Homo sapiens: one gene and its partners. The protein of the gene in region 2 purifies or fractionates together with the protein of the main gene of each other region. This does not show direct contact. Each region holds a gene or a part of one and is shown on either strand. Other genes may lie near its edges. The genes, in order: UBE2O, FGF11 and AHCYL1.

Evidence for each region.
Region 1: the proteins of FGF11 (region 2) and UBE2O purify together in Homo sapiens (affinity purification with mass spectrometry; 3 studies listed by BioGRID and IntAct, with this or other methods). This does not show direct contact.
Region 3: the proteins of FGF11 (region 2) and AHCYL1 purify together in Homo sapiens (affinity purification with mass spectrometry; 3 studies listed by BioGRID and IntAct, with this or other methods). This does not show direct contact.

Annotation. Positions count from the first base shown.
Region 1 is NC_000017.11:76,446,651-76,450,302, forward strand, and holds part of UBE2O ((E3-independent) E2 ubiquitin-conjugating enzyme), read right to left. Parts: intron 1-3,652. UniProt on the Homo sapiens protein: E2/E3 hybrid ubiquitin-protein ligase that displays both E2 and E3 ligase activities and mediates monoubiquitination of target proteins. Negatively regulates TRAF6-mediated NF-kappa-B activation independently of its E2 activity.
Region 2 is NC_000017.11:7,442,360-7,445,437, reverse strand, and holds the end of FGF11 (fibroblast growth factor 11), read right to left. Parts: intron 2,845-3,078; coding exon 2,646-2,844; intron 2,363-2,645; coding exon 2,292-2,362; 3' UTR 501-2,291; downstream 1-500. Other genes in the region: CHRNB1 (acetylcholine receptor subunit beta precursor), read right to left, coding at 29-168, 253-310.
Region 3 is NC_000001.11:109,991,163-109,994,814, reverse strand, and holds part of AHCYL1 (S-adenosylhomocysteine hydrolase-like protein 1), read right to left. Parts: intron 1-3,652. UniProt on the Homo sapiens protein: Multifaceted cellular regulator which coordinates several essential cellular functions including regulation of epithelial HCO3(-) and fluid secretion, mRNA processing and DNA replication.

The DNA of each region.
Region 1 (3,652 bases), about 69 Mb from region 2:
GCATTCCCAGCCGAAGGATGACAGCAGCAGAGCGGACAGGAGGTCAAGTTGGAGCTCCTAATGGAGCTGACCACTTCTGAGGCAACACAGAAATGCCAGTTACGTGGAGTGTCTGCACACTTGTTTTGCTCTAGGAGGTGGAGTTGGGGAATAAAACTGAACTGCAGTTCAGTGTTGGAATGAATCAGACTACAGAGGTTGCTTCATTCAACATTGAGGGGCAGTCAAAGGTTCTCTAGAAATGCAATGTGTTTTTGACAGTTATTTTGAGAATGACTGAGGGGTCAGGGAATGAAAAGAGTGGAATCTGCAGAAGCACACCGCCAGTGCGAATGCAGTGTTCCTCCCGTCCTGCTCCCTACCCATCATCTCCCTCCCTCCTGCCTGCCCACTGGCACAACTTCCACCTATCCCAACATCCTGTGCCTCTCTCCTTCCTCACTTGTAGTACCTCCTATTACACTAAGACTTTCAACTGTTTAAAGAAGGGATGATTAATGCCAACCACAAGGCTTGTGATTCATGTTGGATCAGGGCACTCGGTCACGTATAGTAATGATCTCTGAATCCTGAACTTAAGTATTCTCAGGTGAGAACAAAGTACATTTAGTTCAATTTGTATTCAGATTCCTCCACTTAGAAGTGTGACACTGGGCAATTTACTTAACCTCTCTGTTCCTCAGCTTCCTTCTCTGGAATATGGGGCTAATAATAGCACCACAGGGTTGTTGTGAGCGTGAAGTAAAACATCTAAAGCACTAAGAGTGCCTGGCACACAGTAACAGTATCCTGGATCATGACTGCTCTTATTACCTTAAAATATAAAGCAATACTCTATCATCTTTGTAATTTATAATCTCATTACCAGTCTTGAGAATTTCAAGAGACCTTTCAGACTCTGGAAACATACATACATACATACAGATTCATTCCATCCCCCTCCTGGAGGACGGCCGGGGTTACTTTAAATGTGCATTACTGAATTTCTCACAAAGTAACAGAGGTAGGAAGTTCATGAGTATTTCTAGAAGAGGTTTAATAAAGTCAAACCTATAATCCATCTGGTCACTAGCAACACGAGCCATTAGGAATTCCTATGCCCCTGAAACAACCACCTTCCCCACAACCCGCCTCGTGCACCTTTTGCTTCCCAAGGTGCCTCTTTGGTGCAGCATCACCCTCTTTCTCATGGAAGTGATCTTCTGAAGGCACAGGGCTGGCTCTCTCTGACAGACATCAGAATGCTGTCTGCTAATAACCAAGTGGCCATCCTAGGCTTGACCCAGCTACACTTCTGGTTATTCCATCCGAGCAGGATCATATCGGGGTTAGGAAGATAGACCTCTTATTTCATTGCAGAGGGAGAAAATGAGGCAGTGACTTGGTCAAGGTCATTCAGAGTAGGTGACAGCCAGGAAGAGCACCCAAGGGTTTTGGCTTCCAATCACAGTACAAAACACACACCCTTCATCTGGGGAAAGTACCCTTGAGTCAGGCAGCAGCCAGACAGAAGCACCATCAGGGCACTGAGGCCCGAGGGCTAGAAGGGGAAAAATCAAGGGACAAAGAATAAAATCACAGAACAGCTGTTAAGAGTCTACAAGTGCTGTGATCCTATCTGAATAAAACGCAATTTAGATTCACTTAGTCCTGCATCTTGGTTAACCTTATATAACTTCTTCACATTACATCACTAAGAACAATTGCTTTTAATGGGCCCAGCACCCAGACAAGTGAGACAAACTTCACGTGCCATGATGCTACACCTAAATAGCTTTCCCCATGGAAATGCTGGCCAGCGTAGGAGCCAAAAATAAACTGCAAAGCCAATTCCCGAGGGACCTGTCATCAGGGATGTTTCACACACACAGCTTCATAAAAGCAGGGTGATCACAGACAGCCCTAATTTAGAGGCACTATATCTCAAACCTGGTGAAACCCTGAATGTCATGGCAACTTAAAACAAAAGACAATGCAAAAGAGATGAAAAAGCACAAGAAAGCTAAAGCATAAACGCTTTGCCTCCGAAACGAAGGCTGAACTTGAACTGACAGACAGCAGTCCTGCTCCCTTACCTCGCAGGGGGCTGTTCTGCCCAACCATGACAGGTGGAGACCAGAAGGACCCACCACGTCTAGCCAGTGCTCATGAAGGTTTAAGTGGCTGCTGGCATTTGGCTTTGTTACAAAATTTTATTCAAAGGATGACTGGTGATGGGGAAGGGGCAAGCCTCCTCTAAGGAGATCCATGGCCAGATGGACAGTTTCAAGTGGCTACCTCGCTGAACAGGTCAGAAGACTGGAGAAAGGAAGAAGCATATAAGAGACACTGGCCACTAGCTCCTTTTGAGTCCTTAAGAGGCTTAATTTTGGTGGCTGGAAGCCTCAGGAACACGACAAATTCCATAGCTTCATGGAAGAACTTACTTTGTTTCTGTTGCTATTTTCATGAAGGCAGCAGGGAAAGGACATGACTTGCTGCCCAGTCTCTTCATCTCTCTTTGTAAATTTGTTCACTAAAAACTTGAGACTAAGATTAAGCCTTTACTCATTGCCCTCCAATTTACAGAGAAAACTACAAAAATACGCCACACCCTATGAAACACTCCACATTAAATAGATACTACTAAAAAATTTCAATGGGGCAAGGCACTGTGGCTTATGCCTGTAATTCCAGCACTTGGGGAGGCCAAGGCCGGTGAATCACTTGAGGCCAGAAGTTCAAGACCAGCCTGGCCAAAATGGCAAACTGCCGTCTCTACTAAAAATACAAAAATTAGCTGGGTGTGATGGCGCATGCCCATAATCCCAGCTATGCGGGAGGCTGAGGCACAAGAATCACTTGAACCCGGGAAGTTGAGGTTGTAATGAGCTGAGATCGTGCCACTGCACTCCAGCCTGGGTGACAGAGAGAGACTCTGTTTAAAAAAGAAACTCACACACAAAAATTTTCAATAGGTAGCAGCTTATTAAAAAAAATAAGTTTCGGGCGGGTGCGGTGGCTCCTGCCTGTAATCCCAGCACTTTGGGAGGCCGAGGCGGGCGGATCACCTGAGGTCAGGAGTTCAAGAACAGCCTGGCCACCACGGAGAAACCCCGTCTCCACTAAAAATACAAAAAATTAGCCGGGCGTGATGGCGTATGCCTGTAATCCCAGCTACTCGGGAGGCTGAGGTAGGAGAATCGCTTGAACCCGGGAGGCAGAGGTTGCGGTGAGCCGAGCTGGCGCCATTGCACTCCAGCCTGGGCAACAAGAGCAAAACTCCGTCTCAAAAACATAAATAAATAAAAAATAAGTTTCTCAAAACCATCACTACTGTAGTCCCAGCTACCTGGGAGGCTGAGGCAGGAGGATTGTGTGAGACCAGGAATTCAAGGACACCTGAGTAACAGTGAGACCCCATCCCAAAAATAATAAACAAACCAGTAACTCAAAAAAAAAAAAAAATCTGCCACTACATTATTTTGTCAATAATTGGGTTCTCAAATCTCATAACTAGATTAGTCAATCTTGGTCTAATGGTCTTTCCTTTACGGCATACTATCACCTTGATGGAATTCATAAGGAGCAGGAGGTGAGAAGAAAAATCATCCTAAGCCACAGTTCTGCAAGGTCCCAGGACCCACCCTACCACCCTGCTTGGTGGTCAGTA
Region 2 (3,078 bases):
CTGACCTCCACCCCCCGCGCGCCCTCACCAGGCTGATGAGTTGCGCCAGGATGAGACCAACGCTGACCCTGACACGGTCTCCCACCTCCCGCGCTGGCCGCACGGAGCTATCATAGCCAGAGAAAAGTTTCTCCCGGAGTCGACCCTCCGCCTCCGAGCCGCGGACGCCTGGGGGAGGAGAGAATAAGTGCAGCCCTGGTGCCTGGCCACGACCGCTGGCCCCGTCACTGCCCCTTCGGGGCCTACACTTACCTGGGGCGAGCGGCGCCCCCAGCGCCCCCAGCAGCATCAGCAGAGCCCCTGGGGTCATAGCCTGGCGGCTCGCTCAGTGACTTCGCTCAGAGAGCCGCTGGGACCGCCAGCACAGGGGAAGTGACGAGGAGCCCGGGAATGTGCACCTGTTGCTGGAGGACAGCCGCCAGCCCACCCGCCCCGCCCCCGGGACTTGATCCTGCCTCGAGCAACTGCCAAGCCCGCCACCGACAGATGACAGACAGCACTTCAGTTGTATAAATCGTCTTTAATTGAGAAAGCTGGAGTGGAGACCCGATCCCCTGGGAGCAGTGCCAGGAGTTGGGTGGAGACTGAGTGGGGTTTGTGTGGGTGAGGGGGCATCTACTCCTCTTGCAACAAGCCAGAAGTAGAACAGCCTAAGGAAAAGTGACCTGCCTTGGAGCCTTAGTCCCTCCCTTAGGGCCCCCTCAGCCTACCCTATCCAAGTCTGAGGCTATGGAAGTCTCCCTCCTAGTTCACTAGCAGGTTCCCCATCTTTTCCAGGCTGCCCCTAGCACTCCACGTTTTTCTGAAAAAATCTAGACAGGCCCTTTTTGGGTACCTAAAACCCAGCTGAGGTTGTGAGCTGTAAGGTAAAGCAAGTTCTATCCAATTAGAAGCTGTTGGGGCGTATGAGGTCTGGAGTGCAAGAGGCCTTCACCCTTCTTGGCCTGACCTGTAGGGGAGAAGGGTGAGACTTATTGCTGAATTGGGGTCTCCTCACTGGGAGGGTCAAGGCTGTATCCATTTGTCCTTTTTATTAAGGACATATTACTCTAAGGACCTCAGCTTTAAAGGGGACCTGGAAGGAATTCCTGCTGAGGTAGCTAAGTATTCATGTCCACCCAACACAGATGCAGGTTCAGTCATGCCATAATTTTGACCCCTCCCCCATCCCAGCTTCCCTACTATGAGCCAGGGATCCTTCCAAAATTCCTCTGCCCTTCTCCAGACTCTGTCTCCCTGGCACGACCTCAGCTGGGTTGAAGGAGCTAGAAACTGCATGTAAAAATAAGCTTAGCATTCTATATGGAAGAATCATATTTTTAGAGAATTATCTAGGAAAAACAAGAAATGGTTCTTGATTCATCCAGAAGTGTTTTTATGAATCATAGCTGGGTCTTTTCCAGAACTCATCCGTAATAGGTATCACTCAAGAAGGCGGGAGGGTGGGGCTAGAACTTACTTAGAACAATAATATGGCTATACAGGCCCCAGCTCCATCCTGGGTAAAAGGGCTGAGAGTCATGATCTATGTCCTAGAGCTAGGATTCAGGGGGAAGTACGGCTCCATAAAGCTCTAGAATTGGGTGTCTCTGGGATAAGAAGGTTAAACCCGTGGTCATCTGAGACTGGTTCCGGTTCAGGCCAAAGCCAACAGCTAGACAAGGCCCAAATCTAGCCTCTTTCTACTTGGAAACCAGGGGTCCATCTGAGTCAATGACAGAGGCCTGACAGATCCAGAGAAAAGGCTGGCAGCATGCCTGGGTTCCAGCACAGAGCCCTAGTGCAGAAGTGGCCCTGGCGAGGGTGTCCAGTGTTCCAGAATGTGTCCAGACCAAGGTAGAAGGTAGAGTAGGGAAAGAAGGACACATGAATCCTGAGCTCCAGTGAATCTAGAAATGGCTCAGTGGCAATGAAAAGGGGCACAGGACTCCAGGAACTGGCTGAGCCGGGGTGGGAAGTGTTTATGCCCTGGCTGTCCATGTGGGAACTCCCAGCGCCATCTCAGGAAAAGGCATGGCGTTGTGTGAGTGTGGAAAGAAAGAAGTGATCAGCCAGGACCATCTTCAGACATCCCCCTCTCTGACTCCCTCCTAGGCCCAAAGATCTAAGGGTCTCAGCAGCCTCGGAAGTCACAGTCAGCCCCTAGGCTCCCTCAGGGTAGAGCACCTAGTGGGACCTGGCTGCTCAGGGCATGTGTGTGGCAGCAGGGGTGAGAGCAGGACTGGGAGACAGGTTGTGGTGGTGGCTGGCTCACTGGGAGTGCAGGGAACCTCCAGTCCAGGGACTACATTTCAGGGGGCAGGGGGACTGGAAGGGGAGGCCTCGGGGACACTGTGGAGAGAAGGCTCCTGGTACATGGCCACTGTGAAGGGGAGAAAGAGAGGAGCAGGGAAGGAGAGTTAGGCACAGAGGGACCCAGGCAGAACCAGTGCTCCAAAAGGGCTCCCTTCCCGTACATTCACCCTCCAAGAACCCCAACCCCACAGGAGGACCGCACCCAAACCCCCAAAGGGCAAAGCCTTCCTGGCTTGATCTGTCACAAAGGGTCCTCTTATCACTTGTAGCCTGAGCTGTCTGCCCCTAAATGTCCATATCAAGGTCAATACCCTCTCCTGTGGCCCACATTTTCTTGAGTCTATACCCACCCTCCAGGAGCTTGGGCAGAAAGTGGGCAGCTGCCTTGGTCTTCTTAACTCGGTTTCCCTTCATGACCTGGCCCTCCTTGTCCAGGCCGAGGTACCAGGCCCGGCCAGAACGACGCTGGCGGTAGAGAGCAGAGGCGTACAGGACGTAGTAATTCTCAAAGACACACTCCTTAAAGCGACACTCAGCTGTGAAATGCGGCTAAGGAGACAAAGACCCAGAAAGGCGCACAAAGACAGAGAGATAAAAAGACACATCACTGGGCAGAAAGGAGCTCATGGAAAGCACAAATCCTTTTTGGGGGAGGGGGAGGACAACTTCTGAGTCCATGTAGGACCTGGGAGCAAAGGGAGGACAAGGAAGAGGGCTGAGGGCTAAGAACTAGGCTCTGGGCCAAGCACAGTGGCTCATGCCTATAATCCCAACACTTTGGGA
Region 3 (3,652 bases), on a different chromosome or scaffold from region 2:
ATGACAAGCCAGCTGGGCTACTTCTCATAAATGAACACTGGGAATCTTCATGTCTTGCTTGCTAAGAAAGCTGGTGCTCAGAAGCTGGGCACTGAACCCTCAAGTATTGAATAATAAGTGGGATACCACCTGGCCACCCATAAGAAACTGAATTAGTTACCAAAGCAACTGGATACATCTGCTATCTCTAGGAAGCACCTATTTCAACTTCCAAAATAGCAAAATTTGCCGGGTGCAGTGGCTCATGCCTGTAATCCCAACACTTTGGGAGGCCATGGCGGGTGGATCACCTGAGGTCAGGAGTTCGAGACCACCCTAACCAACATGATGAAATCCCATCTCTACTAAAAACAAAAACAAAAACAAAAAAAACACCAAAAAAAATTTAGCCAGGTGTGGTGGCACATGCCTGTAATCCCAGCTACTTGGGAGGCTGAGGCAGGAGAACTGTTTGAACCCGGGAGGTGGAGATTGCAGTGAGCCGAGATCGTGCCATCACACTCCAGCCTGGGCGACAAGAGCAAAAATCCATCTCAAACAAACAAACAAACAACACAAAATAGCAAAATTCTGAAGGTCTCCTTTTCCCCTGAATCTTGCCTAAGTTATACACTTGAAGTGAAACAGAACACACAAAATGTAGTGCCAACTAGAGCCTGAGCTTCTGGCTAGGATAAGCATTGGCCCAGTTCCCAGAAGACTGTAATTCTAAAGAAGGTGTGTTTCAAAGAGAGAAGGGCATGTATAGCTTTTGAGCATCAAACTCAGCCTTTGACTCAGAAGGGGCAGCCAGGGTTGCAGAGTAAGAACCAGAAGTTTGCTCATCACTGCCGGACGGAGCTGTTGTTTATTACTTTCAGAGTTCCAATGTACTTTCCAAAATCAAACTATTCAACTCATCGCTAATCCCCAAACCTCAAATACCCTATGTGAAAGCCTCCCTGTTCTTTAAATCAAGAGCATGTATAAACCAGGATACCAGTTTCAACTTTGGACAGAGTCTCCCTAATGCTAAGGGTTTAAAAGTTGTTTCAATGGTGAGAAATTCAAGTTACCTTCCCCATTATTGTCTAAGGATATCCCTATGCCCACTGCCACTGGGCTAAGAAGCTGGAGGCATATATTCAGATGTCTTCTCCCTGACCTCCTATTTCTGGCTTTATAAAGGGATCTATTAAGTTGGAAATTCTCATCAATTTCTCACCTGCAGTTCTTGGTACTTCCTTATACCTATGTGAGAGGGCTCTAAGTTAGAAAAATCACCCCAGCCAACTGAAAGGGAAAGTGAGTCAAAGCCACCACATAAGTCCAACTTACTTTCTCCAAGGAATGATTATCTCACATTATTTTATTCAATAAGCATTTATTGACAGTATTATGTGCCAGGTACTATATAAATATGTGTGAGATACGGTCTTTGCCCTCAACATATTCCATCTAGAAAAGTCAAATGATGAGTAAAATTCAAATATCAGGTCAGTCCTTAAAATATAATAGTTTGAGAAGTACTACATTGAAATCCAACCTATTTTTGAGAGACATACAGAAGCAAATTATTTTGTTTAGTTTTGATAATCTACTATGTGAGCTACTATTTCAAACACTCCTACGGAATCAGCTCTGGAGCTTCAGGGGCATCTGCATTTCATATGAAGAGCAGTAGAGTTGAGATAATACCAAAAATTCCCCCAAAGTGGCCGAAATGCCGGTTCGAATGTGTGTTAAGTTCCTGAGCTGAACTCTCAAGGCACTTATAATGAGTCTTTTGGGAAGCTGAGGAGCATCCCAAAGAGGGAGCTGACAATGCCAACAACCTCAGCTTTGTTCCAAGCCATAAGGACAAACTGCAGGCTGGAAACTTAAATCTCTTAGCAGTTTGTGGACTTGTAATGAAAAGAGATGCTGTGGCTTGGAGGCCTGGCCTTCCACATCAGGACTTTAAAACCCAGGATCCATGAGTTTCAGAAGTCCCATAAATCCTCTAACAGAATACGCATATTTTTGTGCTCCTGAATTTTCCTGAGGAAAGAACCAGGATTTTCATTAAACTCTTAAAAGGACCTCTGACTCAAAGAGTAAGAACCATTGTTCTACAGTCTCTAATCCAGTGATTCTCAAGAGCATTCCCTCAAATAGGCAAAAGAGAAGCATATTCCAATTCTCTATCTTCTACACAAATCTGTCTACTTACTGACCTCTCTTCTAAAATTAGAAACAAAGATGGGGATGTGCATTTTGAAAATTCAAAGTGAATCTCTATTTTCTACATCCCCAAAATAAAGCTAACAGTCATGAGAACCTGAAGTCTTCTCCTTAAAGTCTTTGAGAAAGGAGAAGGGGTGGGTCTGGTCAAAGAGGGCAGATCAGAATCTCTGTCCTTTAACTTTTTTTTTTTTTTTTTTTTTTGAGACGGAGTCTTGCTCTGTTGCCAGGCTGGAGTACAGTGGTGCGATCTTGGCTCACTGCAACCTCCACCTCCTGGGTTCAAGCGATTCTCCTGCCTCAGCCTCCCGGGTAGCTGGGACTACAGGTGTGTGCTGCCACACCCAGCTAATTTTTTTTGTGTTTTTAGTAGAGATGGGGTTTCACCATGTTGGCCATGATGGTCTCGATCTCCTGACCTTGTGATCCTCCTGCCTCGGCCTCCCAAAGTGCTGGGATTACAGGCGTGAGCCACTGGGCCCAGCCTGTCCTATTAACTTTTATGGTAGGTCTCTCTCTTTTCTTCCCCCCGCCCCCAGATTTCTGGAACCACAAAGGAAACAGGTCATGGCCCAAAAGCTTTGACGTGAGGTCTTGACGTGAGGTCAAGCCAGTCTTGGGGGAAAAGGGACAAAGTATTTCCCATTAAGCATATGGAAACCTATGTCCCAAAGGTTCACCTTAATACAATTAGTAAGTACTAGAAGAGTTGGAGCCATTTATTAAAAACAGAACTTCCAAAATCCTCTCATTGCTCAAAACTCAGTATGAACGGCTTCATTCAGGAAGTCTAAGTGAATGAAAGATGGTTATACTCATCTCCTCCAGCCTCTTGCCCCTTTACTCTGTCACTCACAAATTTACTACGTAGTTCACACTGAGCCACACATCATTGTGGATCAGCACATTAGCATTTTCCTTGGCACACAGGCTCAGAGGGATTCCACTAATGCCATCGTACACTCGCAGGTTCCGGAGAGAAAAGAAAAACATGTCAACAATAGGGTGTGCTCTTGCTGAGCAGTTCCTCAAATTGTGAAGAAGTAAGCCTGAGGCAGGTCCAAGATGAACAGCATGGAACAGAGAGCAGTCCCAGACCCCTCCTGTTTAATATGCCCCATTTCCATCACACAACTGAGTACAGGCTGTCCACTTTAAAACAAGTGAACTGGCTTGGGCTGGTAGAGAAGAACATGTTAAGCCCATTAAGCCCCACAGGTTAAGTACACAGGCACATCAGCGGAGGCGTTGGGGCTTTTATGGTAAGAAGCAGGAGCATGCTTGGAGAGTCTTGTACCTGTGGTTCTCAAAAGTACTTTTCCAATCTCTACCCCAGATTTCCAAATACTACCTTTTACCAATAGTTCATTAAACTTTTTACTTTGTGTTCCATTTGGGTAGTGAATGATTAAGCCCCCCAATGTATACTGATAAGCAGTATCCATCATTA